Homo sapiens: one gene and its partners. The protein of the gene in region 4 purifies or fractionates together with the protein of the main gene of each other region. This does not show direct contact. Each region holds a gene or a part of one and is shown on either strand. Other genes may lie near its edges.

The links.
Region 1: the proteins of L3MBTL1 (region 4) and NSMCE4A purify together in Homo sapiens (affinity purification with mass spectrometry; 2 studies listed by BioGRID and IntAct, with this or other methods). This does not show direct contact.
Region 2: the proteins of L3MBTL1 (region 4) and ZNF281 purify together in Homo sapiens (affinity purification with mass spectrometry; 3 studies listed by BioGRID and IntAct, with this or other methods). This does not show direct contact.
Region 3: the proteins of L3MBTL1 (region 4) and ANAPC1 purify together in Homo sapiens (affinity purification with mass spectrometry; 5 studies listed by BioGRID and IntAct, with this or other methods). This does not show direct contact.

The regions. Positions count from the first base shown.
Region 1 is NC_000010.11:121,958,198-121,965,221, forward strand, and holds part of NSMCE4A (non-structural maintenance of chromosomes element 4 homolog A), read right to left. Parts: intron 5,132-7,024; coding exon 5,041-5,131; intron 3,911-5,040; coding exon of another isoform or gene 3,804-3,910; exon of another isoform or gene 3,556-3,803; intron 3,321-3,555; coding exon 3,226-3,320; intron 2,210-3,225; coding exon 2,161-2,209; intron 2,022-2,160; coding exon of another isoform or gene 1,996-2,021; exon of another isoform or gene 1,402-1,995; intron 1,399-1,401; coding exon 1,304-1,398; intron 1,214-1,303; coding exon 1,139-1,213; 3' UTR 1,127-1,138; intron 1-1,126. UniProt on the Homo sapiens protein: Component of the SMC5-SMC6 complex, a complex involved in DNA double-strand breaks by homologous recombination. The complex may promote sister chromatid homologous recombination by recruiting the SMC1-SMC3 cohesin complex to double-strand breaks.
Region 2 is NC_000001.11:200,407,028-200,414,819, forward strand, and holds the start of ZNF281 (zinc finger protein 281), read right to left. Parts: upstream 3,010-7,792; 5' UTR 2,919-3,009; intron 2,697-2,918; 5' UTR 2,679-2,696; coding exon 1-2,678. UniProt on the Homo sapiens protein: Transcription repressor that plays a role in regulation of embryonic stem cells (ESCs) differentiation.
Region 3 is NC_000002.12:111,818,170-111,825,193, reverse strand, and holds part of ANAPC1 (anaphase-promoting complex subunit 1), read left to right. Parts: intron 1-26; coding exon 27-63; intron 64-157; coding exon 158-228; intron 229-2,593; coding exon 2,594-2,772; intron 2,773-3,728; coding exon of another isoform or gene 3,729-3,740; coding exon 3,741-3,955; intron 3,956-5,771; coding exon of another isoform or gene 5,772-5,793; exon of another isoform or gene 5,794-5,905; intron 5,906-6,235; coding exon 6,236-6,354; intron 6,355-7,024. UniProt on the Homo sapiens protein: Component of the anaphase promoting complex/cyclosome (APC/C), a cell cycle-regulated E3 ubiquitin ligase that controls progression through mitosis and the G1 phase of the cell cycle.
Region 4 is NC_000020.11:43,503,812-43,510,702, reverse strand, and holds the start of L3MBTL1 (lethal(3)malignant brain tumor-like protein 1), read right to left. Parts: upstream 3,007-6,891; 5' UTR 2,959-3,006; intron 1-2,958. UniProt on the Homo sapiens protein: Polycomb group (PcG) protein that specifically recognizes and binds mono- and dimethyllysine residues on target proteins, thereby acting as a 'reader' of a network of post-translational modifications.

The DNA of each region.
Region 1 (7,024 bases), on a different chromosome or scaffold from region 4:
AGCCTGGGGGTGACAGAGCAAGACTCTGTCTCAAAAAAAAAGAGAAGTTGGGTGAGATTAAGTGACTTGCCCAAGGTTTTAAAGTAAGGGGCAAAAATAAATAAATAAAGTAAGGGGCATAGCCGATAGAATCTAGGTCTTCTGATTCCCACCCACAACTGTCTGCACTACAAAATGTCAGATCATTATTAAGATTTCTTTCTAGAAATGTTACCCTTCATAAAAATGAAGAAGAATTCTTTCATAGCCTAATACAAATTTTAGAAATGCCAATTTACCAAGATTATTCTAAGGTAATTCTATCCTAATCCTCTTTTTCTGCTTTGTACTTATAAAATAAGCAAATCTAATGGGATGGTGAACAACAACATGGATGAGAGGATTCAATATTTCACTTATCTAATTTACCAGTTTGTTGGGGGAAAAGCAGCAGCTGGGTATGGTGACTCATACCTATAATCCCAGCACTTTGGGAAGCTGAGATGGGAGCATCCCTTGAGCCCAGGAGTTTGAGACCAGCCTGGGCAACATAGTGAGACCCCTTCCCTATTTTTTATTAAAAACAAAAACAAAAACAAAACCCACCAAACCAAGAACAATCCTGCACTGCTTCTTTCAGCTGCAAGTCTTTTTTTTGAGACAGAGTCTTGCTCTGTCTCCCAGGCTGGAGTGCAGTGGCACGATCTCAGCCACTGCAACCTCCACCTCCCGGGTTCAAGCAATTCTCCTGCCTCAGCCTCCTGAGTAGCTGGGATTACAGGTGCATGCCACCACGCCCAGCTAATTTTTGTATTTTTAGTAGAGATGGGGTTTTACCATGTTGGTCAGGCTGATCTCGAACTCCTGACCTCATGATCCGCTTGCCTTGGCCTCCCAAAGTGCTGGGATTACAGGCGTGAGCCACCACGCCTGGCCTCAGCTGCAAATCTTAACAGCACAAATTTAATCAATCCAGAGAAGGGAACGCAGAACCACTATCCCTTTCTCACCTGTTACACACAGTTCTAAGAATGGGGCACTACAGGGAGGCAAAAATTCAAATTTCACTGGAATGGGGAAAAGGGATACTTTGGATTGCCAAATGAACTTTAATAGAACTGTGTAGCCATCCCATTGAAAAGGTTACCTTCAGCTAGCATCAAGCACTTGGCTTCTGCTGCCTCTGACTTGGAGTAATCACAGGCTCTGAAATCTCAAAGGTCTTCACAATCTCCTGGCAGACAATAATGAACATTTAGGCACTGGGCTTACTGCAAGTGAAGGCAGAGTCAGAACTATGCAGGGGCAACAGGCAGAGCTTTACCTCCCAGTCACGGTAACTCAAAGCTATAATTCCTTGATTTCTAACTTGTGTGTTATGTTCAAATCCCTCATTTTCTTCATTAATACTAACAGGCTCTGTTTGAAAGACAAATTTTTCAAATTTATCAAAGGTTATTAAATCGGAACAGGTAATCTAAACGGAAACTGATGAATAATAGCAATGAAACCTGTATTGAAAAGATACTTATAATATTACATACTTTTTAGGATTTCATGCATTATGGAGCTGCTGTAGTATTATTACAGTAGCCAGTCATTCCATCTGTTTCCATTTCAAAAAACATGTAGTAGAGTAACACATTCCAGACATTTGAAAATCTGCATATCTATGTGTCAACCACAGAGCTAAGCCCTAGTGAGTCCAATAGGACATTGAGAACATTGAAAGTAGCAAGTAAGTGCGATGGAAATATTCACTCTCCACAGGAGACCTTAGGAGGACATGAGTAATGGAGAGTGTGAAATTATTCAGGTAAGAATGAAAGATTCATAGAACCTCAAAGAGAAAAGAAGGTGCCGGCATCTGACAAAACGTGATTAGAAAGAGGGATACTACAAAAATGACTGCAATCACCAACTTTCTAAATTAAGATCTGAGGGAAATTATATCATTTCTTTGTTAATATTTACAGCAGATGTTGAATCAATGATATAGATGAATCCATCAAAATTTTAGACGCTGGCCATGTTTTCAGTATCTTCAGGTAGTTGAGCAAGATACAATATTGTAAAAGTTAATCTACATTGAAAATTCATTTACATTTAGTAAAATACTTAAATTCTACTAACAAATATATTTTCTCTAAAACTAATTTTTCCAAACATAGTATCATTTACCTATTACTGGCAGTCGGTCTTGGTCAAGTCTTATTCTTGCAAAACCATCCTAAAACGAAAACATGATTTTAGGAGAAGACAAACATTTAAGACTCAAACCTATACGCACTAGATGGAAAAAATTACTCAGAAAATTCAGTATCTCAGAAAATCAAATTACACCATAGCAATAATAAGGTGATGATATAGATAAGACTTCCCTAGTATCTTTTATTTACACAGGGTATCTTTGGGTTTCTAATCAGCTCTTTCACCCAGACACAGCCTCCATCCTGAGAATCTCTTAAGTGAAACTCATCTTGTCTCTTTAACTGATTTATACATATTTTGGAATACTCCACATTTTATTCTGCATAATTCTGTCACTGGGACCACTGGCAAAATATGCCTTTGTTATTATTTCTGAGAAAATACGTTGGTAGACATAGGTTTTCTCTAAGGTTATAATCAAATTCATCTTACATGTGGGAATGCAACCTGAAGTAAGATTAAAGATAGTCTAAAGCAAATTTCCATGGTACATATCTGAGTAGAGTTTTAAAACCAATTTTGAAATAATTTCAGACTTAAAGGGCTATAAGACTACTATAAACACGTGGCATATATCCTTTACCCATATTCATCAGTCGTTAAAGTGTTAGTTACCACGTTTACTTTATCACTCTACATATTATTATTTATGAATGAAGTGAGAATGATAGGCGGCCTGCTTCTTTTCCCTAATCTTTCAGTGTGTATTTCTTGAGAACAAGGATATTATACAACATGACAACTATCAAATGCAGGAAATTTAACATTTATACCATACTGTTATCTAATCTAAAGTTCCATATTCAAATTTTTCCAATTCTTTCTCTAAATAATTTCTAAAACATAAAAGCAAGCATATAAAATTTTAGCTAGCTTCTTCTACCTAATATGCCAATTAATGTTTTGCTACAATGGGTCTGAAACATATACTGGCTAGTGTATACAGATACCTTTGCCAGCTCCCTTCTACAGCTTTTCTTATGTAGCCTTTTAAAAGCATATAAAAGCAATTAGAAAAATAATCTTTAATCTTACCCGTATAATGAAGGAAACATGAAAGATGTTTTCCACTGTACGGGGGAAAGAATGAGGATCAACCACAAAGTCAAAGAAGGACATTGGGGTATCAGCTATAGACAAAAAGAGAAAAAAAAATTGATTTTTGCTTGTCATTAATATCAGTACACTCTAGCGTTAGCCAGAGACAAAGAAAGGATGTGTACTCATTCCTGCTGCAGGAGTGCAAATCAATCCAACCCTTCTGGAGGCCAATTTGGCATCTCTACTAAAAACATGTATGCCCACTGACCTGGAAACCACCTCTAAGAAGCTGTGCTACAGAAATACAAGTGTAACTGCACAAAATTACATACTAAGATTTTTTACTTCAGCAATTTATACAAGAGTAAAATGCTATAAAGAACTTAATCATCCAGCTGGGCATGGCACTCACACCTGTAATCCCAGCACTTTGGGAGGCCGATGCTGGCAGATCACCTGAGGTCAGGGGTTCAAGACTAGCTTGGCCAACATGGCGAAACAATGTCTCTACTAAAAATACAGAAAAAAAATTAGCCAGATGTGGTGGCGCGTGCGCCTGTAATCCCAGCTACTCAGGAGGCTGAGGCAGGAGAATTGCTTGAATCCAGGAGGTGGAGGTTGCAGTGAGTTGAGATGGTGCCACTGCATTCCAGTCTGGGCGAAAGAGTGAGACTGTCTCCTAAAAAAAAAAAAAAAAAATAGGAACTTGGCCGGGCGCGGTGGCTCATGCCTGTAATCCCAGCACTTTGGGAGGCCGAGGTGGGTGGATCACAAGGTCAGGAGATCAAGACCATCCTGGCTAACACGGTGAAACCCAGGTTCTACTAAAAGTACAAAAGAATTAGCCAGGCGTGGTGGCGGGTGCCTGTAGTCCCAGCTACTTGGGAGGCTGAGGCAGGAGAATGGCGTGAACCCAGGAGGGAGAGGTTGCAGTGAGCCAAGATCGCGCCACTGCACTCCAGCCTGGGCGACAGAGCGAGACTCTGTCTCAAAAAAAAAAAAAAGGAACTTAATCATCCATTAATGGAGGATCTGTTAAATATATTTACAGTACAGCCATATAATGGGAATCAGTGAACAAAACAAGGGAGATCTATATGAAATGATGTGGAAGAATGTCCACATGGAAAAGTCACGTAGCAGAAGAATGTGCATATTATGATTAGCTTGGAAAAAAAGAAAAAAACAAACTTTTTTTTTTCAGATGTAGTTTCGCTCTTGTTGCCCAGGCTAGAGTGCAATGGCGTGATCTTGGCTCACCGCAACCTCTGTCTCCCGGGTTCAAGCGATTCTCCTGCCTCAGCCTCCCAAGTAGCTGGGATTACAGGAATGCACTACCACACCCGGTTAATTTTGTATTTTTAGTAGAGATGAGGTTTCTCCATGTTGGTCAGGCGGGTATCGAACTCCCAACCTCAGCCTCCCAAAGTGCTGGGATTACAGGTGTGAGCCACCACGCCCGGCCAAAACAAACTATTTAGGTAGGTGTGTATAAAACTGATAAAATAATCTGAAAATATACACATTACATTTTATAATGAGGGGAGGTGGAACAGCTACTTTTGACATTTCTCACTTGAATGGCATATTTCATTTTGTAACAAAAAAAATCCCCATCTTTTAAAGATAAAAATGAAAACGTTAACTTCAAAGTTTTCACATGAAATTTCTAAAGGGGAGAAGAATCCTCATAAAATGCATATGTATTTATTCAAATATTACATACAGCTGAAATTGCCTTTTAAATACAAGTAACCTCAGTGAACAGATAAATACAAATTGCTCCACTTTGAATGGTGTTACACTTACGATCTTCTCGAAAATATGTCTGCAACAATCCCAAGATTCTTTCTACTTCTTTCTCTGTTGCTTCTTGATGAGATTCTTCCATTCTTCTTAACTGAAAAAAGTCATTATCAAGCTGACAGACCTACTTACTGGCCTATTAACGTTTTCTTCTCTCTTGCACACCCAAACTCCTTTTCTTCTCTCTTGCACACCCGAACTCTTTTTTTTTTTTGAGACAGGGTCTTGCTTTGCCACCCAGGCTAGAGTGCAGTTGCATGATCTCGGCTCACTGTAACCTCAGACTCCTGTGCTCAAGGGATCCTACCACCTCAGCTTCTTGAGTAGCTGGCACTAGAAGCGTGCACCACTACACCTGGCTAATTTTTTTTTTTTTAATTCATTCTACCTTGTCTAAGACACCTGGCTAATTAAAAAAAATTTTTTTAGATATGGGGTCTTGCTGACCATCCTGGCTAACACGGTGAAACCCCATCTCTACTAAAAATACAAAAACTTAGCCAGGTGTGGTGACAGGCGCCTGTACTCCCAGCTACTCAGGAGGCTGAGGCAGGAGAATGGCATGAACCCGGGAGGCGGAGCTTGCAGTGAGCCGACATCGCGCCTGTAATCCCTGCGCTGTAGGAGGCTGAGGCAGGTGGATCACAAGGTCAGGAGTTCGAGACCAGCCTGGCCATTATGGTGAAACCGTCTCTATTAAAAAACACCAAAATTAGCCGGGCATGGTGGTGCCTGCCTGTAATCCCAGCTACTTGGGAGGCTGAGGCAGGAGAATGGCTTGAACCCAGCAGGCGGAGGTTGCAGTGAGCCGAGATCGCGCCACTGCACTCCAGCCCGGGTGATAGGGCAAGACTCTGTCTCAAAAAAAATTATGGTTTAAAAAAAAACAGATTTTCTGGTTTCAGTAACTTTTTTTTTTTTTTTTTGAGATGGAGTCTTGCTCTGTGGCCCAGGCTGGAGTGCAGTGGTGCCATCTCGGCTCACTGCAACCTCCGCTTCCCAGGTTCAAGCAATTCTCCTACCTCAGCCTCCAGAGTAGCTGGGATTAGAGGCACCCACCACCACATCTGGCTAATTTTTTGTACTTTTTAGTAGAGACAGGGTTTCACCATGTTGGCCAGGCTGGTTTCTAACTCCTGACCTCAGGTGGATCTGCCCGCCTTGGCCTCCCAAAGTGCTGGGATTACAGGCGTAAGCCACCACACTCGGGCAACCTTTGTTTTTTTTGAGACGGACTCTCGCTCTGTCGCCCAGGCTGGAGTACAGTGGCATGATCTCGGCTCAGTGCAACCTCTGCCTCCTAGATTCCTAATTCTCCTGCGTCAGCCTCCCGAATAGCCCGGACTACAGGCACCTGCCACCATACCTAGCTAATTTCTGTATTTTTAGTAGAGACGGGGTTTCCCCGTATTGGCCGGGCTGGTCTCGAACTCCTGACCTTGTGATCTGCCCGCCTCGGCCTCCCAAAGTGCTGGGATTACAGGCGTAAGCCACTGTGCCTGGCCTCAGTAACATTTTCATATCAATTTCTTAATAGAATAGTAACATTACCAGATTAACCATTTTCAGGTTGAACATAAAATAGCAAAATACAAAAGGGCGGTTTAGAAACAGTGGTTCTCGAGTGGGTGTGACTTTCCCCCCACCTCCCCAGGGAACATTTGTTGTCACATGTAGACATTTTTGGTTGTCACAACTCAGGGGTCGGGGGGGCTATTAGCATATAACAGGTAGAGGCTGGGGATGCCGCTAAGCATCCTACAATGCGCAGGACAGCTCCCCAAACCAACATTATCCAGCCGTAAATGTTGACAGTGCTGAGGTTGACCCTGGCTTCGGAGAACTGATCAAAACTAGAGAAATGAGTTAAAACAAAGACAAGCAGCCAATCCAATAAAATGCTTAAAGGCTTAAATAAAATGATTATTTAAGTGACAAAACCTGGCTCCAGACCCGCACACTTAGAAAAAATGGCCAAATTGCATGC
Region 2 (7,792 bases), on a different chromosome or scaffold from region 4:
CTCTGGCTGGTGGGTGTCTTTACTCTTGTACTACATGGCTCACTTACATCAGACATCATATTTGTATACCCTGAGAAATCTGACACTGAAGTCCTTACTCTATGGTCCACTTCTCCATTAGAGTTAGTGATAAAGGTCATTGGCACCCTGCTGCCCGACTTAAACTGAGAACCAAACGCTTGTGCAAAGTTCTCAATCTGATACGTTGTTCTAGGCTCTATGTCTTTCTGAGGATCTATCTGGCTAGCTAACTCCTGAGATGGAATCTGAAAGCCTGTTGAAGACTCTAAGTTTTTCTGTTCCTTCTGGCTAGTCAATTTCTGAGATGAGGACTGGAAGGCTGATGAAGTCTCTAAGTTCTTCTGAGAATCTATCAGATCATCCAGCTCCTGGGAAGGTGTCAACTGCTGATGTGTAGCATCCAAAGCAGACAAATAAAGACCTGGCTGAGATCCAAACAACATCCCAAAAGGAGGCTTTGGCAATGAAGATGGCAACACTGAGGTAACAGATTGGCCGAAACCACACTCCAAAGGAGACGTAGTGTATATTTGTTTTTCTGGAAACAAAGTGTGGTTGTGGAGAGGTGAAGACAAACTGACAAATTGGAAACCGTGTCCAAGAGTAAAACTTGCATTAGTGGATTTTTCAAAAGCCTGTTGGAGGTATTTGGAGTATTCTTGCAACATACTTGCTTTATCATTTGAAGGTGTTTGGGTGCCTGGGCTCAAATTTTCTTCTTGAACCAATTCTGAGTGTTCTCCTGAGGTGTGTAAATCCACTCGTGGTTCTGCAATATTGAAAGGATCCTCTTTCTGGCTTTCTGATTTGTTGGAGTATTGATCCAAAATACTTTGTAAAACCTCATCAGGAATTCCAGACTTGTCATGACAAGATTTAATTTCAGCATTTAGAGCTGAGGAGTCAATAAGTGACAATGGTGCCTCATTGTCCAAAACACTGACACCTGCAGACTGAATGACAGACTGTTGGGAGACCATGTGTCCTACGTTTATAGAAAAGGCACTGTTGCTGCTGGCAGTTGGTAAATATCTTCTTTTCTTTGAAAACTGCATGGCATCATCATAATTACTACTTATCTGACCTTGTTTGCCACTTGTACTTTGGAGAAGACCAATGGTCTCCACACTATTATTTGATACTATGCCAAGTGAGCCACTTGGTTTTCCAGACAAGGATTTCTGTCCTACTATGTCTGGTAATGGTGACACAAAGTTAAGGTAGTTTTTATCTGTATTCTTTCTGCTTCCTTTCTTAAAGATCAATTTTGGCACCCTCTTCTGCAGTTCATCTATTCCAGTGCCAATTATGCCTCCACTGGAAGACACGGTAGGCATTTCTACTGAGTAACTCTGCATGTTTATATTATTTGAAATTTGCGATTCATTTGTTTTACCGGTCTTCTGTTCCTTATTTTCAATAGCTATGCTTTTTGACTTTGTTTTTCTCCTTGAAGAACTTGTATTTCCCTGAGACAACACAGCCAGATTACCCATATTGGTATGGTTTGATGACCCAGGTTCTGCACTAGTGGCTCCTTTAACTATGACTTCACCACATGTGCGCCTGTGCTTCAACAATCTATCAGTCCTTGAAAAATACTGTTGGCAAGTGTCACACTTATATGGCTTTTCTCCACTATGTGTCCTCTTGTGTCTCTCCATATGGTACTTCTGAATAAACTTCATGCTGCACTGATCACATCCAAATGGCTTCTCTCTACTATGAATTTTCTCATGTCTCTGTAGTAGGTATTTCTGAATGAAACCCATACTACACTGGCTGCACTGGAAAGGTCTTTCTCCTGTATGAATGAGGACATGTCTCCGCAGGTGATAGGAGCTTCGGAAAGCAGCACTACAGTGATCACAGATATGAGGTTTCTGACTTGGGGAGAGGATGGCACCTTCTCCATCTCCAACCAAAGAAGGTTTGGAAGATGCACTTGGCTTCCTCTTGGCTTTGATTCCCTGAGATTCTGGCTTTGGCCTTTTTGCCTTTTTGACATTAGTGTCCTGCTTTGGCTCCTCAGTGCCATGGTGGTCATCAGTCCTGCTACTGCTGCTGAGTAATACGTCACGGTGGTGCTGGGCTGGTTGCTGCTGGACATGCTGGTGGAGAATACTGAGGTCCTGGATGACGCCGTGACTCCCCCCTTCACCGCCTCCTAGGCCTGGAGACCTCTCTTCAGCTCCAGCGAACAGCCCCCCATAGTGGTGGTGGTGATGGTGGTGGTGGGACTGCTGCTCCTCAGGATCCGCGGGTTTCTCCTGTTTGATGCTAACCAAAGACTGCAAGAACCCCCAGGAGGTCCTCTGCGAGGGGAAGGCCGCGGCTGACGCCGCCGGCTCCTTCTTGAAAGTCATGTCCGGGGCTGGCGGAGGGGGGGGCTCAGCGGCCGGGGCTGCGGAGGTAGAGGAGGATAACACGCATTGCGGGGGAGGGGCGGCCGACCCCGCCGGCCGGGTGAAGCTGGTGACCGGGGGAAGACGGTGGTTGAACATAACCATACCCTGGGGAAAGGTGGGTTCCATCTCTGCCCTCCTGCCGCTGCTGCCGCCGCCGCCGCCGCCGCCACTACCACCGCCGCCGGAGCCGCTACCACCGCTACTGCCGGTACCTCCGCCGCCACTCAGGAACCCACTGCCGATTTTCATACCCCGGAGGAGGCCTGGCTGAAGAAAGGAGGAGGAAGAGGGAAGAGGGAGGAAAGGAGGTGGAACCGGGCCCCGGGCCGGGACCACCGCAGCGCTAAGGACCCCGCCGCGCCGCCGCCCAGACCGCAACGCGCCCAGCACTAATTCCCAGCCCAGTCGCCTCCGGCACCGGCACGCATGGTCCTGCGACTCTTCCCCAGGCCTCGCCCTCTCCCTCCTGGACCCACCGGCAATACTTACGGGTCCCGCCGCCGCCGCAGCCGCCGTCGCCTCCAGTTAATAAAAATAACGCCGTCCTCTCCACAATGGAATTAAAAGCCTCCCGTGTACTGCGCAGCCGCGGCGCAGTGTCTGCTGGGAACTCCTCGACCCGGCCAGAGGGGAGGGCTAAGGAGCCAGGGCGCCTGCGCCGCAGCTTCCGCCCGGCCTGCCTGTCAATCACTGGGGCCGTTGGGCGGAGGCGGGGGAGCAAGGGCAGGGGAGGCGGGGATTTGGAGCCCTGCTAAAAAGGGGCTTTCGAGGCGAACAGGCGTGATTGGTGGGCTGCACTGAAGGAGATGAAAGTGGTTGAGGGTTTCTGGGGGAAAGACGCTCAGGAGGTGGAACCCAAGGGGCGGGAAGTTACGGGGGACTGTACTACAGCGTGGCGTGGGAGATGCAGAGAAAGGGGCTGGAAGAGAAGGTGAGGGAAACTGAGGATTCAATGTTAGGGCTTTCTTCACTCTAGGTTTTGCAATCCAGGTCTTGAAATAAAATTCAAACCTAGAAGTGGATCATTGAGGGCACTTTTGATTCTATCAAGAAGCATTCAACTCCAAATGCTCAACATTTATTAAAACAGGTGCTTATGTTATCCCTTTGAATTTGGAAGCACTAATAATGGGCGCATATCCTTTGCATTTATGGGAGGAGCCTGCTTTGAAACCGCAATTAGTGGTACCGTTGCAACAAAAAAAAAAAAAAGAAAAAGAAAAAAACTTGTCTTACTGCCAACCTTCCTGAAGGCTACTGGAAGAGGAAACCGAGCGTAATCCAGGTGCAGCAGTCCTGTAAAACACGCCCACACACATACTTCATTATCATTACATCTTATTTAAATGCCCCCGTACCTTAGCCTGGCTAATCAGTCTGTTTGCCACGTTATGAATGCCTGGCCCTTTATATTGTTTATGAAAAATTAACCACCAGGCCATTCTAAGAGCTCTGCTAGGATCAACTCTTTCCTCGCCAGTACAGAATACCGAGAAACTCATTGCAAATTTAGAAATTTTTCTTGTAAGGGAAAATTATGAAGTAAAATCTTAAAATCAAAGTTATATCAACAAAATCAAACAACAAATATTTATTCAGTGTCTAATGTACACAAGGCACTCGATTTCATGTTAAGCATGCAGAAATCTAAACCAGACACTTTCCTAGCAAAGGATATTTATAAATGAGAAATTTTAAATAAAAGAACTAGAACTATGACAACAGCTTATTTACATAGTATGTTTTCTTAATGAAGTTACATGTACATCACAATGTTTCTAGCTAAATAACTTCTCATAATTAAATAATAAATTCTCTGGGAAATTTCACAATCGAAACCATAGGGATTATTTACTAATACTTATGGACCTCTCTCAGCCTGCCCTAAAAATTTTACAGACAATATTTAATGAGAATTTTGAGATAAGAAGAAATTGCTTTTTTTCTAATCCCATGAAACAACATGTAAGTATTCCACCACTTAAACTGACACTTTAATACTGTCAAGTATAGTTGTGATATTGTGAAATATATATTTGGACTTTGAACCGTTTTGTGGCATACAACTGCTAAAAATCCTTGGAATCTGCAAAGTAATAAATGTCTTTTTGTATGCTAATGAAGCGACTGATGATGGCTGGCAACCCCTAGGTAGCTTCAGGATGGGGGCTGGTCACCGGAAAGACCAAGGCAGGATTAGAGTTTGGGACTTTCAGTCCCACCCCCCGACCTCCGGGGAGGAGAGAGGGATTGAAGGTTAAGTTGATCTTCAATGGCCAATGATTTAATCAATCATGCCTGTGTAATGAAGCCTTCATAAAAACCTAAAAAAGGACGGGGTTTGGAGAGCTTCCTGTAAGCGAACCCGTGAAGGTTCCAGGAGGATGGCGCACCCGGAAAGGGCGTGGAAGCTCCGCGCCCCTTCCCACAGACTTTCCCCCATCCATCTCTTCATCTGGTGTTCATCGATAGCCTTTGTAATGTCCTTAATAGTAAACCGGAAAACGTAAGTGTTTGCCTGGGTTCTATGAGCTGCTCTAGCAAATTAATCAAGCCCAAGGAAGGGGTCATGGGAACCCCGATTTACAGCTGGTCAGTCAGAAGCACAGGTAAAACTACCTGGGGCTTGTGATTGGCATCTGAAATGCGGCCGGCCAGTCTTGTAGGCCTGGGCTCTTAATCTGGGGGATCTGATGCTGTCTCCAGGTAGGTAGTGTCAGAATTGAATTGGAGGACACCCCAGTGGTGTCTGCTGCAGAATTGATTGCTTGCTCGGTGTGTGGGGAGAAACCCCTACACATTTGGTCGCAGAAATCTTCTGTGTTGATTGTTGAGTGAGAGTATAGGAGAGGCTGAGTTGTTTTTTTGTTTTTGTTTTTGTTTTTTTCTACAATAGCTAAGTGTTAAAGACTGAAAGTTCAAAAACTTAAGGCAGTCGTAAAATATTAGTCAACGCCTGTGAGAAATGAGGCTGTCCCTTTATTCAGGGTGTCAGTGTTTAATGGTAAGCTGGGATGCATATAAGCTAGTCCAAGCATGAAGGGCAGTAGGACACTCATATGAAAAGCCAACTTTGTTCCTCAGTTATCAAGATAAGAAACCTGTCATTTCTCTCATTCACTCTGTCAGCCTTGAGATACTCCAAGCAGACTTACCTCTGTGTTGTACACCCCATATATCAGGAAGATGAAGAGACCCTGTAAAATAAAATGGAGGGGAAAAGCTGTTAACGCTAATCATTTCAGCAGTAGAAATACCTGAAATAAACTTTCCTGGGAACAGACAAAAGAAGACACACTTCATCAAGGTCAATTTATTTTCCTATTTTTCAACATTAGAAGGTGTACCTTGAGCATTTATATGATAACATAGCAAGCACATCACTTATAATGGTTGTGCTATTCAATTCTTTAGAAGTACAAAATAAAAATACCATCCCAAGTACAAAGAATATTAATTAGAAAAATCAATATACCAGTTCTGAAAGATAGCTGGGTAATGAAAAAATTAAACTCAGGAAATGTTATTAAAGTAATCATAGAAATAACACTAAGCATCAGTATTTCCAAGCACTGTTTTAGACTGTAGCAACTAGAATATATTTGTTACAATCTTCAACAGGGTTAAAATTAAAAAAAAAAAATTATAAAGCAGCTAAAAGAATAAACTTAAGGTAATAAGTATGAATAGGTTTTGAAATAATACTTGAAATACCAGCTCGAGATAAAATTTCACATTACCATCTGTTGTGAACTGCATACATTTTTATTGTAATCTATATATGTAACAAATATTCCAAAGATGTTGATTAGTCTTTAGCTTTAGAAAATGCTTAATTAATTAGAAAATATAAATTCACTTTTAACTCTAAAATCTTAACTTTTAAAAGAAAATAAAACTATATGCTTTAAACTTAGAGAAAACAGACAGCAAAAAATTTTCACTTCAGTGAGGAAATAAAAATCTACATTGTAGTATTCTTGTTAGGTACTAACAAGCCAAATATTAAATAGGAGTCTGTACTAAATCTAGAAATGGTTCAAATAGTTAAGTAATATGATTCTTTCAAAAGTAAAATATTAAAGGAATATTTTAATATTTGTTTATCTCTGAATGCTTAGATTTTACAGATAATGGAAACAATCCCAGAACAAAGAGATTGTATAAAACTAGTGATTCTTGTTTTTATTTAGTTTCTTTTTAAATAGACTTTGTTTTTTACAGCAATTTTAGTTTTACAGAAAAATTGATAAGATAGTACTCAGGCTGGGCACGGTGGCTCTTGCCAGTATTCCCAGCACTTTTGGAGGCCGAGGCGGGCAGATCACCTGAGGTCAGGAGTTCAAGACCAGCCTGGCCAACATGGTGAAACCTCGTCGTTACTAAAAATAAAAAATTTGCCGGGCGTGGTAGCACATGCCTGTAATCCCAGCTACTAGGAAGGCTGAGGCAGGAGAATCACTTGAACCCGGGAGGCGGAGGTTGCAGTGAGCAGAGATTGCACCACCGCATACCAGTCTGGGCCACAAGAGTGAAACTCCGTCTCAAAAAAAAAACAACAAAGAAAGATAGTACTAACAGTTTGCATATATCCGATACATCCCCAGTTTCCTCTATTTTTAACATTTTACATTAGTATGGTATATTCATTATAACAAATCTAATTCAATACTACTACCTTTATAATTTCTGAAACTAAAACTGTTGCAATACATACATTTGTTTTAATAAGAATGATTAATGAAGAGTTATGAACAATAAACAATTTCCATTTTGATAATAAACTTTTAAAAATTCAACTATAGCTACACTTTTTTTTACTGTGTATACACGATGTCCCAAAGTTCAATACCAACACTCACTTTCCTCCTTCCAGTAGCCTTGGTCAAGATCCATTTAGTGCAGACTAAATTCAAGCCACTCAGTACTTGAGTTTAGTACTCATTTTATAGGCTACTTGTTTGCTCCAATTCTGGATAATTCTAAATAGTTAAGAAAAAAAAATCTTTTTTCTGATTTATGTAAAAACTCTAAGATAATTAAGAGTCCCTCTTCCCTCAATAATTGTTAATTTTTTATTCCTTATTTTGCTGCATAAATAAAAATTTAAGAGTAAGTCATTCAAATTTTAATTCTATTTATGAGATAGGAATATTTTGCTTTGTACAATAGATGAGTTCCTGAACAAATAAAATTTCCTGAACAAATAAAATTTCCTGAACATTGAACAACATGCATTATTATTTCCGTATAAGAAACCCAGCTGTTTATGTGAAATCTATATGATGCTTTGAAAATCAAAGAGCTAACCAGGTGCAGTTGTTCACACCTGTAATCCCAACTCTTTGGGAGGCTGAGGCAGG
Region 3 (7,024 bases), on a different chromosome or scaffold from region 4:
TTAAGTTTCATTTTGTTGCCTTTTAGCCCCCCAGAAGTTGCAAGTAGAACAAGAGGAAAACAGGTGACTTTTATTTAGACTGTGCTTTTATGTCAAACACTTAAAACAATATTATTTACTGTTCTGCTTAATAACTTTATGTTTTATTCTCTTATAGGTTTAGTTTCAGGCATTCTACATCTGTTTCTAGTCTAGCTGAAAGATTGGTTGTCTGGATGACTAATGTAGGTGAGAGCTTCTTTGTTACCTCCTAACTAGGCCGTGCTTCCTCCAGACTAGCTAGAAGTGGAAGGCATGAGGAGAGAGGGGCTCTGGCTTTGTGAAAAGGCCTCACAAGATTGAGATTATGGTTCATCAAGCCATATTCTTTTTTTCTCGACAATCTCACAACTTTCATATAATAATATTTGGGATACCAGCTTTTTATCTTGATGCATAAGGAATCTTTATTTGCCATTTAATTGGAACATTTGAGGCTGTGGCTATGTAAGCTGGTCTCTGAGAATGGAGAACTCTAATCACCTACATACACACCTGAAATCATTGTGATACTCAGATATCAGAAATGGGTGGTTTTGGCAAAGTCTAAAAGCAATAATATAAACATTTCAGGGTATACTTTTGAAGGATAAATGCACTTTTGAAGGGATTTCAGGCACCAAGATGAACATTGAACTGGGAAGAGGAAGAGGAAGGAAAAGAGTTCTATATTCCCTATTCCCCAAACCTATGCTCCTAGGTTTTAAATTAAGTAAAATACCAAAGAAATTTTTTTTCACAAAGAACTGAAAAACAAAAATTACTGCCACGAAGACATGATTTTAAAAATGAGGATGTTATATGGGATGTATGTTAAAAAGTAAAGTTTTAATGAATATTAAAAGATGTTTTTGAAGTCTTATCTAAAGTATGTTCTAAATGAAGTTTCTGACAGGTTTTTTTTTTTTTTTTTTGCATTTTACCTTAAAAATGACAATAACTGTTGCATAGTATACATACAGGATACCTATGCTGAAAAATATTGGATTAGTTCTATCCATTTGTATATTGCATAATATTTAATAAGTGTTATTCTCATATAAGGAAACATTTTTTGCCTCAATAGTTAATCGACTTTTTATATTATAAATAATGCATAGTATTATGAAATTTAGAAAATCATAAGAAAAACATGATTTAATTAACCTGAGGATAAATTTAAATATGAAATATGGTATACTTACAAAATAATATGTCAAACGTATATGTTTAGTTTAGAGAATGGTACTAAAGTGAGTATTGATGTACTGGTCACCCACCCCTAGAAATAGAATATTACCCGCATAGTAGAAGGCCCTTACATATCTGTTCTTGGATGGTCCCCTCCTGTCACACACCCCAATGTTATAGTGAACCACTGCCCTACCTACATTTGTGTTACCTTACTCTTGTTTTTCTTTATAGTTTTACATCTTTATAAATTGCTAGGTCTTATGTAGTTTTGAAAATATATAGATGTAAATATGTGTTCCTTTTTCTTCACTCAACTTTGTTTTTTAAAGATTCATCCATGTCGACTCATGTAGCAGTAGCAGCGGGCCATTCATTTTCTCTGATATAGAGATTACTTTGTTTGAACATATCATAATTTAATTACCCATTCTATTGATGATAGACAATCGGACTCACCCCTTTCTCCATCTCTTTTTTTTTTTCCATAACAAACCAGTATTGCTAATGAATATTTTTATACCTGTGTCTTTGTACATGGGTATAAGTTTCTATATGGCTGTTGATGGATCAAATGGGTGGATTGACCTATACATACCAACTGTTTTCCAAAGTGGTTGTACCAGTTTACACTACCATTGGCTATGGATAAGCATTATTGTTGCTTGGGCCAGGCGCGGTGGCTCATGCCTGTAATGCCAGCACTTTGGGAGGCCGAGGCGGGTGGATCACGAGGTCAGGAGATCGAGACCATCCTGGCTAATACGGTGAAACCCTGTCTCTACTAAAAAAAAAATTACAAAAAAAATTAGCCGGGCATGGTGGCGGGCGCCTGTAGTCCCAGCTACTCGGGAGGCTGAGGCAGGAGAATGGCGTGAACCCGGGAGGAGGAGCTTGCAGTGAGCCAAGATCGCGCCACTGCACTCCATCCTGGGCGACAGAGCGAGACTCCATCTCAAAAAAAAAAAAAAAAAAAAAAAAAAAGAATAAAAAGAATTATTATTGCTCTACATAGTTGCCAACATTTAGTATTGATTGGCTTTGACATTTATATTTCTCAGTAGCTTTAATTTGCATTTTCCTGATCCCTAATTAGGTAGAGCATCTTTTCATATGCATGTTGCCCATTTATGTTTCCCCTTCTAGGAAATGTCTTTTTGTCCTTTATATTTTTCTATTAGATTGTCTTTTTTTCTTCAGGTTTTTACAAGTTCTTTCAAAGAGACTTCCTATACTAGTCCTTGATGTCAAGACATTAGTCTGGTAGTAAGATGAATAAAATGAACTTATTTGTCAGGATAGATATTGTTGCCAACTTCAGTCAGGATAATTGGGACAGTGGCGAGTCTAAATTAAAATTTTTCTCTCTTCCTTTAACCATTAGGATTCACTTTAAGAGATTTGGAAACTCTTCCCTTTGGAATTGCTCTTCCCATCAGAGATGCAATTTATCACTGTCGTGAGCAGCCTGCCTCAGACTGGCCAGAAGCTGTCTGTCTCTTGATTGGACGTCAGGATCTTTCCAAGCAGGCCTGCGAAGGAAACTTACCCAAAGGGAAGTCTGTGAGTATCAACATAGAAAGTTCAGAGTTCCAATTTTAGCCTTAAATAAAATCATAAAGTAGAAATGTTCTTCATTTTCCTTTAAGGCTTTTTCTAAGTATATATATTAGCTTGTCTTTTATATTATATGCCAGACGGGGTTTGTAATTGTACGCGTCTTATTAATTGTTAAGATGAGCATTAGGAGCAGGAGATTTTGTGAATGTTCTGTCTTGTGCCTGGATCTTTCTTTGCCTTGAATCAGGACAAGTCCTGAGGGTAGTCATGGAAACTACCATGGCTATTTCCCTACTTGTACCATATTAGTAATTAACCACTTTGTAATTATTACATAGGAAAAGGGAGAGCACATATATCCTGAATTTGGATGAGTAATTATATATAAATATTTTCTACTGCATATTTTTTGATGTGTTGAATTTTTTGAATTTAACCTTTTAAATAGGTGTAAACATATTTGTTTAATCACATAAAACTGCAGCCCCAGGGAAAAAATGTGTTTTTTTCAGTAGAGTTGTTTAAAAACATGTCTTAAGCTATCCCTCCCGAAATACTGTCTTTCATCAATCATCAAGTCTGTTTTTTTTTTCAAATGAGTTCTAGGAATCCTGCAAGTAGAAAGTTAAATTATTTCATTACTCTCCAATTATCTTTTTAAATCATCCTCACCATGTTGGCCAGGCTGGTCTGGAACCCCTGGCCTCGGGTGATCCGCCCACCTCGGCCTCCCAAAGTGCTGGGATTACAGAGTGTGAGCCACCACACCCGGCCAGCAATATAGTACTTTTTAGAAAGATTTGTAGATTAGAGTCCCAGTATACATTGCGGCTCCAACCCATGCCTGCTTTGGAAAACATATTTTCTCTGTGCTAGTATAGTCAAGACACATCAGCCTATATATCCTCATGTTCAGCAAGTGCATGTTAACTGCTTTTGAAATTATTATTACAATAAAGTCTGTTACTCAGGTGCTCTCATCAGATGTTCCTTCAGGAACAGAAACTGAGGAGGAAGATGACGGCATGAATGACATGAATCACGAGGTCATGTCATTAATATGGAGTGAAGATTTAAGGGTGCAGGATGTGCGAAGGCTTCTTCAGAGTGCGCATCCTGTCCGTGTCAACGTAGTGCAGTACCCAGAGCTCAGTGACCACGAGTTCATCGAGGAAAAGGAAAACAGGTGAAAGAAAACACGTGCACTATCTCTTGTCATGTTTCATTGTTACATTTGTGTCTTGTGTATATTTGTTTTTCCTTCAAGTTTTTAGCATTTAAAACCCTAAAGAGATTTAAAAGATACTTTCAAGTGAAAATATGCCCTGTGTTTTAAGTTTTCATCCAACTTCAACAAACCACGTGTGTTAGCAAAATGTCTTTGGCTTTTGAGGACGTAATTGTTGTATTTCATATCGTCCTCCTCTTGAAATACATATAACACTTTACTCTTTAGAAAAGGTGAATGTAAAACTATTTTGCCTGATAGTTACCTTAAGAATTTACAAACAAAGAAAACACTGGACTTGTTTTTCTGTGTCTTGATCAGGAATAGATTTTGAGGTTAGTGGGGTTTTTAGTGTAGTTTAAACTTGTATGAGTATTTTTTTTTTTTGGATATGATAGATGATACTCCAAATAAAAATAGATAAGCCTTTCTTCTGCCACTCCCCTGCACAGGATACATCCCTTGATACATTATAAGACTCACATGCCTATGACATTCCAGAGCTATTCTCTTGGGACACTTCTGTTTTAAAATTCTCTCCTGTTCTTTTATCTGCTTGTCTCTATCATCTATCATTCATCTGCCACTGTTTTCTAGTTCTCTTTACTTTTTTTATGGTACTGTTTTGAGGGGAACCATCACCCACACTTAGCCACAGGCTGCTGAAGATCTGAATTAGTTGTGATTTCCCTATTAACTGTTTCCTCTCCACATGTACCCAGTTATTAGTCACCTGTGAATAAAAAGATGGAGTGACAGAAGTTGAGTTTAGAGCATAGGATTTATGAGCATGGCCTCTAGAGCCAGGCATGGCCATGCTGTGCTGGGTGACTTTGGTTAAATTACTTTACCTCTTGTTGCCTCAGTTGCTTCATTTGTAAAAGTAGGCATACTTCATGGGATGGTGCTGTGTATCAAGTGAATTATTTTTACATAGCACTTAGAATACTGCTCAATACATAGTAAAGCTCAGTGCAGTCAGCCATTATTAGTAGTAGAGTTCATTGATTCTAAGATGCAAGTTTTTTCACTTTTTAATATCTCTGAAATCAGTTGTGTATTTCAGTGAACAGGTGTCATAGTTTAATTGGCAGTGCTTTTTCTTTCTTAGTTTCTCATGAAATAATGATACATCTTATCAGTGGCATCTTATATTCAGGGGATATAATATTGTTCTCATTATAATTTTGTTACTTGCGCAAAGTTGAAGTGAATTATGTGTAAGATTTCCTCTAAAAAAATTCTATGGGTTGCAACAGCCTCTTGGCTTTGAATTTTCCTGATCCCAAATTAATGTTGCGGTTGTGTTCCCAGAGAATCTTTAAGACAGCAAAATTTTTCTTTCCAGTTAGCTAGAAAAGCAGTTATGTGTGTCCAGTTAAGGAGGGAGTATGCTTATGAATAGCTTTGTCTGCAGAGAAAATGTTTGTCAGTTGTCAGCCTCTGAAGGGATATTTCTGTGTCTTCAGATATAGCTTGTATAGGCGTTTCTTAGTTATAAATGCCCTACTTCCAAAATTTCTGTTAGTTTTTTTTAAGTGGCTATATGGAATGTTAAGCTATTTTAACATAGGAAGAAGTTGAAGAGTGGTGTATTAATTTCACAGTAGAGCCAACAGAAACCATTTTAACCTTGAACATACCTGATACATAATGGTATTAGTCCTATAAATCTAGCCATCATGTAAGTGAAACCAATCTGTATTTCCCTTGGAGACACCATGAAATCCATTCACCTCTAACACAAGGACCTTGTTTCTTTTCTTGTGTACAGGCCACAGAAATGGTACTTCTGAGGCTGTATTGGCAAAAGGGATGGGAGGAGGATCCCACATGTACTGAGGACAGCTAGACTGAAATTAACACAGTGATAAAAACCCCAAAAGTACTGTATTTTCCTTTGAGAAGGTTAGCATCCATCGGAGTGGAATTTTAAATTTCTTTTTTTTTTTGAATGCCTAGAGAGAGTCGGCTGGGTTTATAGGCCAGGTGGTTTTCATTCAATGTAAATATGAAACAAAACAGAGGAAATATGTCTCTCCCTAAGAGTGTAATAGGAACAAGAATATTAAAATGAAAATAATCATGTTTGGGTAGTTCACTCACATCTGTGTATGAATTTACTTTGAGACAACTTCATCTTATACAGTACACCTTCTTTTGAAATACTTACAGATGATATTTCAATTGCTCTTTGCTTTAAACATTTTCATATGTTGGTTTTTACTTTAATTACAGATTGCTCCAATTGTGTCAGCGAACTATGGCTCTTCCTGTAGGACGAGGAATGTTTACCTTGTTTTCGTACCATCCTGTTCCAACAGAGCCATTGCCTATTCCTAAATTGAATCTGACTGGTATGTTAAATTCTGGGCTCAATGAGAAAGGAAAATGATTAAGTACATGCATTAAGTGTAGTTCTTTAAATTAGTTAAAACAAAAGAAATGCTCCCTCTATCCCCAGTGATTTAAAATTTTCCTAATAGCTGCTGTAGTGGTTATCAAAGCTCAAATGCCATGTGAAACTAAACTTTGAGAGAAGCAGAATATAGTTCATTACTCATTTTTGCTTTTTAATGAGGTGATTTTAAGATCTAAAAAGTCACTTGGAGAAGTTCAGAAAGATATTATTGATAACGATGAGACTTGAATTTTAAATAATCTTAAGTTTAATATGTAAAAATATTTAGTTTTAAAATGTCTTACGTCATAGTTTAAACAGATGATCATTGTATAAATCAAGAAATGTACTAAGCAAAAAGAGAAACAATGGTCGCTTGCAGTACTCCCACTCTTCTGCATCACTCCTTTTAACATTTTAGTATATATGTTTACTAAGTTTATTTCCACATATTTATAATTTTATATTTGTTTAATTATCAGAAAATTTATATCTATTTTAGATTTTTTTAAAAATTTACAGTGAACATCCTTTTATATCTAGCAAATAAATGTATGTGTTTATAATTATGTGTATGTATTGTATACACGTGTTTTTAATCAATACATTCATTTTTATTTGCTTCA
Region 4 (6,891 bases):
GCTCACGCCTCTAATCCCAGCACTTTGGGAAGCCGAGGTGGGTAGATCACCTGAGGTCAGGAGTTCAAGACCAGTCTGACCAACATGGTGAAACCCCATTGCTACTAAAAACACAAAAAAATAAAAAAAAAATAGCCAGGTGTGGTGGCAGGCGCCTGTAATCCCAGCTATTTGGGAGGCTGAGGCAGGAGAATTGCTTGAACCCAGGAGGTGGAGGTTGCGGTAAGCCAAGATCATGCCACTGCACTCCAGCCTGGGCAACAGAATAAGACTCCACCTCAAAAAAAAAAAAAAAAGAAAGAAAGAAAGAAAGAAAATTATAAAACATAATTCCCTGAATTTCAATTCCAATTTGCTTTGCACAGCTGAAGTACTTGTACTATTTTAAATACCTTTAGAGTTAGGCTGGACGTGGTGGCTCACGCCTATAATCCCAGCACTTTGGGAGGCCAAGGTGGGTGGATCGCTTTGAGCTCAGGAGTTGGAGACCAGCCTGGGCAACATGGTGAAACCCCATCTCTACAAAAAGTACAAAAGTTAGCCAGGCAGGCCATGCGTGGTGGCTCACACCTGTAATCCCAACACTTTGGGAGGCCAATCACTTGAGGCCAGGAGTTCAAAACCAGCCTGGACAACATGTTGAAACTCCATCTCTACCAAAAGTACAAAAATTTAGCTGGGCATGGTGGCACACGCCTGTTATCCCAGCTACTCAGGAGGCTGAGGCAGGAGAATCCCTTGAACCCAGGAGGTGGAGGTTGCAGTGAGCCAAGATCGCGCCACTGCACTCCAGCCTGAGTGACAAAATGAGACCCTGTCTCAATAAATAAATAAATAAATAGAGTTAATCTTTTTATTTGAAACACTGGCAGTTAAGAGTGAATGTGGTTACTTCTGAAAGAATTTCACTCTGTGTCAAAACCTGTCACATCTCAGGTCTATTGAAGAAGCTGGATTTGAAGACTACGTTTCTGTTTGGGTTCGCTGCCTCTTTTCCAGCAAGCATGGGAGGACCAAGTAGGTGTCACCACCATTCTGTGCTCTGGGGTTACAGTCACAAACATGACAAAATGCTCTCATGAAGCTTATATTCTGGAGATAATGGATGAGGTTGGGGCTGGAGGTATAAATTTGAAGACCAGCATGTGTAGATGGCATTTAAAACCACAGAACTGGGGCGAGGCCTGGTGGCTCATGCCTGTAATCCTAGCACTTTGGGAGGCCAAGGTGGGAGGATCACTTGAGCCCAGGAGTTTGAGACCAGCATGGCCAACATAGTGAGGCCTCAGCCTCAACAAAAGATTTTAAAAATTAGCTGAACATGGTGGTGCACCCCTGTGGTCCCAGCTACTGGGGAGGCTGAGGTGGGAGGGTTGCTTGAGCCTGGGAGGTAAAGGCTGCAGTGAGCTATGATCACACCACTACACTCGAGCCTGGGCGACAGAGCAAGACCCTGTCAGAGAGAAAGGGGAGGGGAGGGGAGGAAGGAAGGAAGGAGAGAGAGAGAAAGAAAGAAAAAAGAAAAAACCACATAACTGAGTATAAAGAAAAAAGTGGGAACTTTGGAGCACACCCACATTTATAGGTTGGGAAGAGGAAAAGGGTCTAGCAAAAGGGACTGAGAAGGAGTCTGCCATGAAGTGAGGGGGGACTCAGAAGAGTCTGGGTTTCTGGTGGACACTGAAGAAAGTTTTCAGCCTTCTGCCGTCAGCCTCTCTTGGAACTGCTCTGAGCCTAGGGAGCTACCTCACTTGAAGGCTCTCCTAGAAGCCGCCAGCCAATGACGAGTTGCTATGAGGTGTAAAGACCCCACCCCCTTGCCTTACTTTGGAACACCTCTGCAGGGCCATCTCAGTTCCAGAGCTTCCATTAGGTCAGGCTGAGGCCTCTGTTGAGACTACATCAGCAGTTCAGCTTCTTCTTCCGCCCAACCCGTCATTCCCCTACTGGTGATATTCGCAAGAGCACTCCGATAAACCTACACTCAAATCTTGCTATCGGAGTCTGTTTCGGGGGACCCGACCTAAAACAACCATTGTAGCCCCAGCCCAGAGCCGTGCACATAGCAGATGCTCAATAAATATCTGTTGGCTGAATGTGTCCATGGGTATTTTCTCTTGATGTCTGACAAGGTTTTCTCAATCCCTTGCCTTCCAAGGCCTTGTATACAAAAACGACCAATAAATGTCCTTACTATAGGTGTTGGGTGGGGAGTAGAGCCCTCGACAGCTACCCAGAAAACAACACACAGCAAGGCTGAGCGCTACAAACTTGGGGCCTCGGCCCCGCCCCTCGCCGCAGCTGCTTCCCGGACTCGGGAGGGGACGGAAGCGGCCCTGAGCGCAGGGTTCCAGGATCGGGACCCGCCACCAGCCTCCCGGGACTGGTATAGGCAAAGGCGGGCGGGGCGGTCACTGATCCGACAGTTCCGCAGAACGGTTACTTTTTAAAACGCTAAAATGGCGGAATTCTTTTTATTCTTTCTCTTTATGGCCAAAAAAAAAAAAAGAGAGAGAAACAAAAAAAATTCCATATTCCATTATAAAAATCCAAAATTAATGGTAGGAAAGTTTGCCAAATGACTCATTCATTTCCCAAGAAAACCAAAACCCCGCCCTCCACACCTTTCCATTAATAAAAAAACTCTTAATTGATTGCGTATCTCCAAACACGCAGCCTCCACCCTCCTCGCCCCTCCTGATCGCAGCCCGAAGCCACGCCGCAGGGTCGGCTGGGCCTGGAGTCCCGCACCCGCCTGGCCCCCTGCGCGCTCCGCCCAGACCGCTTTCCCCGGCGTTTTCCCGAACCTCCTCCCCAGCCCGCGCCCCCCGCCGGAGGCGCTCGGAAGGAGCGAGACGCCGGGGCCGCAGACCTGAGCCCTCGCCGCCCTGGACGGAGCGGGGTGGCGCGGCGCCCAGGGGACGCAAGGTCTGAGCCCACGCACCGCTGGTTGCTTACCTGCCTGGCCAGCCGGTGGCCGCCCAGCGCCTAGCTACGGTCCGAGCCGGGCGCCGCGCGCCTGCGCGTTCGGGGGGCGGGTCCGCCTCCCTGCAGGACGCAGAGCGCGGGGCCCGAGCGCCGGGCACATCTGCCCGGCCCAGGCGCAGGCCCAGGCTTCTGTGGCGCCCGCGCCCTCTTGCCTGCCTTCGAGGCCCTGGTTGTGCGCGCCTCATGCCCCCTCAACCTAGGACAGGTTTGCCGCACGGGCGTGGCGGGTCGAGATTTTTCCTGCCCCCGAACCCCTGCATCACAGCTAGCAGAGCGCAGCGGGGGCGCAGGGACCGCGGAGCTCGAAGAGAGAGCCTGGAGGGCTACCGAGCTGAGTGGTTAGTGACAAAAGACGAGGCTGCACCCAGGCATGCACCCCAGCCGAGTGTCTGCTCTGTCCAACGCCTTCCCACCGCGCCTGCCCTCACCCTGGAGGGGAGCTCAGGAGCGTCAGAAAACGGCCTCAGGAAGGGTGAAGGGCACGTGCGACCGGAGAGAGGAACCCTCGTGCGGGGACTCTGGTCCTGGCCCTGCCGGGCATAAAGAGCGGCATTAGCCGCGTCTACTTTTGGGTGACCCCACTGCGAAGGGCTGGGTAACATCAGTATCCCCCAGGTCCTCCATTTCGACATTGGTAAAGACTATCACCCACTTCATGGCGTATGGTCGTTTTCAGTTTGGGTTCCTGTGGTGGTGTAGCAATCACTGCCCCTCTCTGCTTCACTTTGACTGATCTCTTCGCCTCCACCTGATCTCTCTAATTAATCAAATCTCCTTGTTATTGGTTCTGGTAACACAAGATACCTGTCTCGCTTACACATACCACAGCTGGCACTTCACATAGATTTGAGTAATTCCAGAGGCTAAGAGGTTTCAAGCTCCAAGAGGGTAGGAAATATTAGTTTTTGTATTCCTAGTACCTAGCCCAGAGCGGGGCACAGAGTGGGTGCTTAATAAATATCTGTTGAGTGACTAAATGATGTAGGGTATGCAGATGAAAACAGGGTAACTTTTGGTACAGTCCACCATCCAGCCCCTCTCCCACACCAATGATTTAATTTAATCCCTTGATTTTACTTGGCCTTAAGTCATGGCCACATGTCAGACCACCAGGCTCCTGATTCCCTCCCAGGCCAGATGAGAAAAGGGTTCCTAATGAAATGTAGGCAAATTCTCCAAATTGCTGTGATCGACAGGTTTAAATTTATGCAGAATTTAACTATTCCGGTTGCCACGCCAACGCATTGCATGTGTTCTTCCTTGCTGCAATGTCAATTTTTAATCACATCTCATATTATTGGGAACAGGATTGCATCAGTTAAGGATGCTGGTTGCCATAACGATGGATGCCTTTTTCTACACATTGATACATACACAACCATCCGCTCAGTATTCTCTCATCTCAACCTAGACTGTGCGTGATCTAGATTTCAAAGGTTTATTTTAGGTATTCAGAAGATTAAAAGAAAGTGGTGAACCTACACAAACACATGGATTCTCAAAAACAAAGGCATCTTTTAGATGGTGATTAAGACGGATAAGTGGAATTTGAGCTAGCAAGACCTAGAAACAAACAACTAACATGGATGTGAGTTGCTAAGACATTATTTTTCTGGCTATCGACAGTATTTTTGTGCCTCACGCCTGTAATCCCGGCACTTTGGGAGGCTGAGGTGGGAGGATTGCTTGAGCCCAGGAGTTTGAGACCAGCCTGGGCAACATGGCAAAATCCTGTCTCTACAAAAAAAAAAAAAAAAAAATTAGCTGGGTGTGGTGGCGCATAACTGTAGTCCTCCCTAGCTACTAGGGAGGCTGAGGTGAGAGGGTCGCTTGAGTCCAGGAGCTCAAGGCTGAAGTGGGCCATGAGTGAGCCACTGCACTCCAGCCTGGGCAACAGAGAGAAATCCTGTCTAAACAAACAAAAAATCTCTCTCCTCACCCAAGAAAAAAACTGTATTTTTGTGGTCTTGATACCTGGCTTGTTGGCTTGAACAGGGGTCAAACAAACAAACCAGGTATCAAGATCACCAAATCCTGGGGTGAAGAGCTGCTACCACGTTAATATGATTTGGAGAAGTTTCTGCCTCATGAAGCCAGAGTTTCCCCTTCCAGTACCAGTCTGCCTTCAGGAGCAAGTAAGCAAGTCCAGTCCTCCCCTCAAGTGATAGCCCCCTCTTCACAAGTTCACAGCCCCCATTGTCTTCTCCATGTTAACCCCCTGCTCAAGCATGGACCCAAAATATTTTGAAATATTGATGAGTCAAAGCACTGAGAAGACTGTTGTTTACGCCAGGCATAGTGGCTCACACCTGTAATCCCAGCACTTATGCCAACGTGGGAGGATTGCTTGACGCCAGGAGTTCAAGACCAGCCTGGTCAACATAGTAATGAAACAAGAAAAGTTCCCTTATCCCCCTAGCAGGGTGTGTGACAGCGGGGGAGTGGCTTGCTTCCTCAGTGCCCTGCAACTCAAACCCTAGGGGGAGCATACAGACGGGCAGGTAGTGGGGAGCGTGGGCTCCAACCCCACAGCAGCATCTAGGGTTGAGTATTTACAGCTCCCGAAGCCTCAGTAGACGTGTGTTACTGTGTGCTCTTCAGTTTAGCCGTCCGTAGACAGCTCGTTTTAATCAGCTCAATTAGACCCTCTGCCTTATTGAAAGGACAGAGAGTTTTCTGTATCCTGGGTTCTTGCCCTAGTGTACTGGAAAAATCAGATTACACATGGGCTTGGAGAATGAGTGCAAGGTTTTATTGAATGGTGGAGGTTGCTCTCAGCAGATGTATGGGGAAACAGAAGGGGAATGGAGTGGGAAGGTGGTCTTCCCCTGGAGTTGCCTGGCTCTCCTTCAACCACCCTCAGCTGAATTTCCCTAGGCATCCGCATCCTTCTGCAGTTGATGGCCTGTCAGCGTCCGTGTGTTCTTCTGATGTGTTCCTCTCCATATCCAGCCATTTGTATGTGTGCCCACTAGGGTATTGGGGTTTATATAGGCACAAGATGGGGGGTGTGCGGGCCAGAGTGGTCTTGGAAAATGCAACATTTGGGCACAAAAACAGGAGTGCCTGTCTTCACCTGGGTCCATGGGTGGGGCCCTCACCAGGGACCCTGCCTTTCTCTACCCAGCACTTCCCTGCCCCACTCCTGTATCAATGACAGACCCCCTCCAGTCTCTACAAAAAAATTAAAAATTAGTTGGGTGTGATGGCACATGCCTATAGTCCTGGCTACTTGGGAGGCTGAGATGGGAGGATTGCTTGAGCCCAGGAAGTCAAGGCTGCAGTGAGCTGTGATCATACCACTGCACTCCAACCTGGGCAATAGAACAAGACCCTGTATGTAAAACAAACAAACAAAAGAAAACTGTTGTTTCTAAGCAGCCCACACCATTCTGTTCCTACAATAGAGTTTCATTCACCATTGAGACTGTCTGCAGATTTTTAGGGAAATCATCAGGATGTGCCCTTTATGTATAAAAACACTTCTGGTTCCAACGTCAGACTGAGCTAGTATGGAACGTTTTAAAAACTTTTTTTATTTTTATCTTTTAAATGTAGTTACATAAAATAGAGACAGGGTCTCCCTGTGTTGTCCAGGCTGGTCTCAAACTCCTAAGCTCAAGGGATCCTCCTGCGTTGGCGTCCCAAAGTGCTAGGATTACAGGCATGAGCCACCGCGCCTGGCTGGGAACCTTTTCTAACACAAACACCAGAAAACCCTGCCTATTATATTACAAGAAAGGAAGCAAGCAAGCACACAGGGAAAGAAAGTAAATTCATTGCTGGCCGGGCGCGGTGGTTCATGCCTGTAATCCCAGCATTTTGGGAGGCCGAGGCGGGTGGATCACGAGGTCAAGAGCTTGAGACTATTCTGGCTAACACGGTGAAACCCTGTCTCTACTA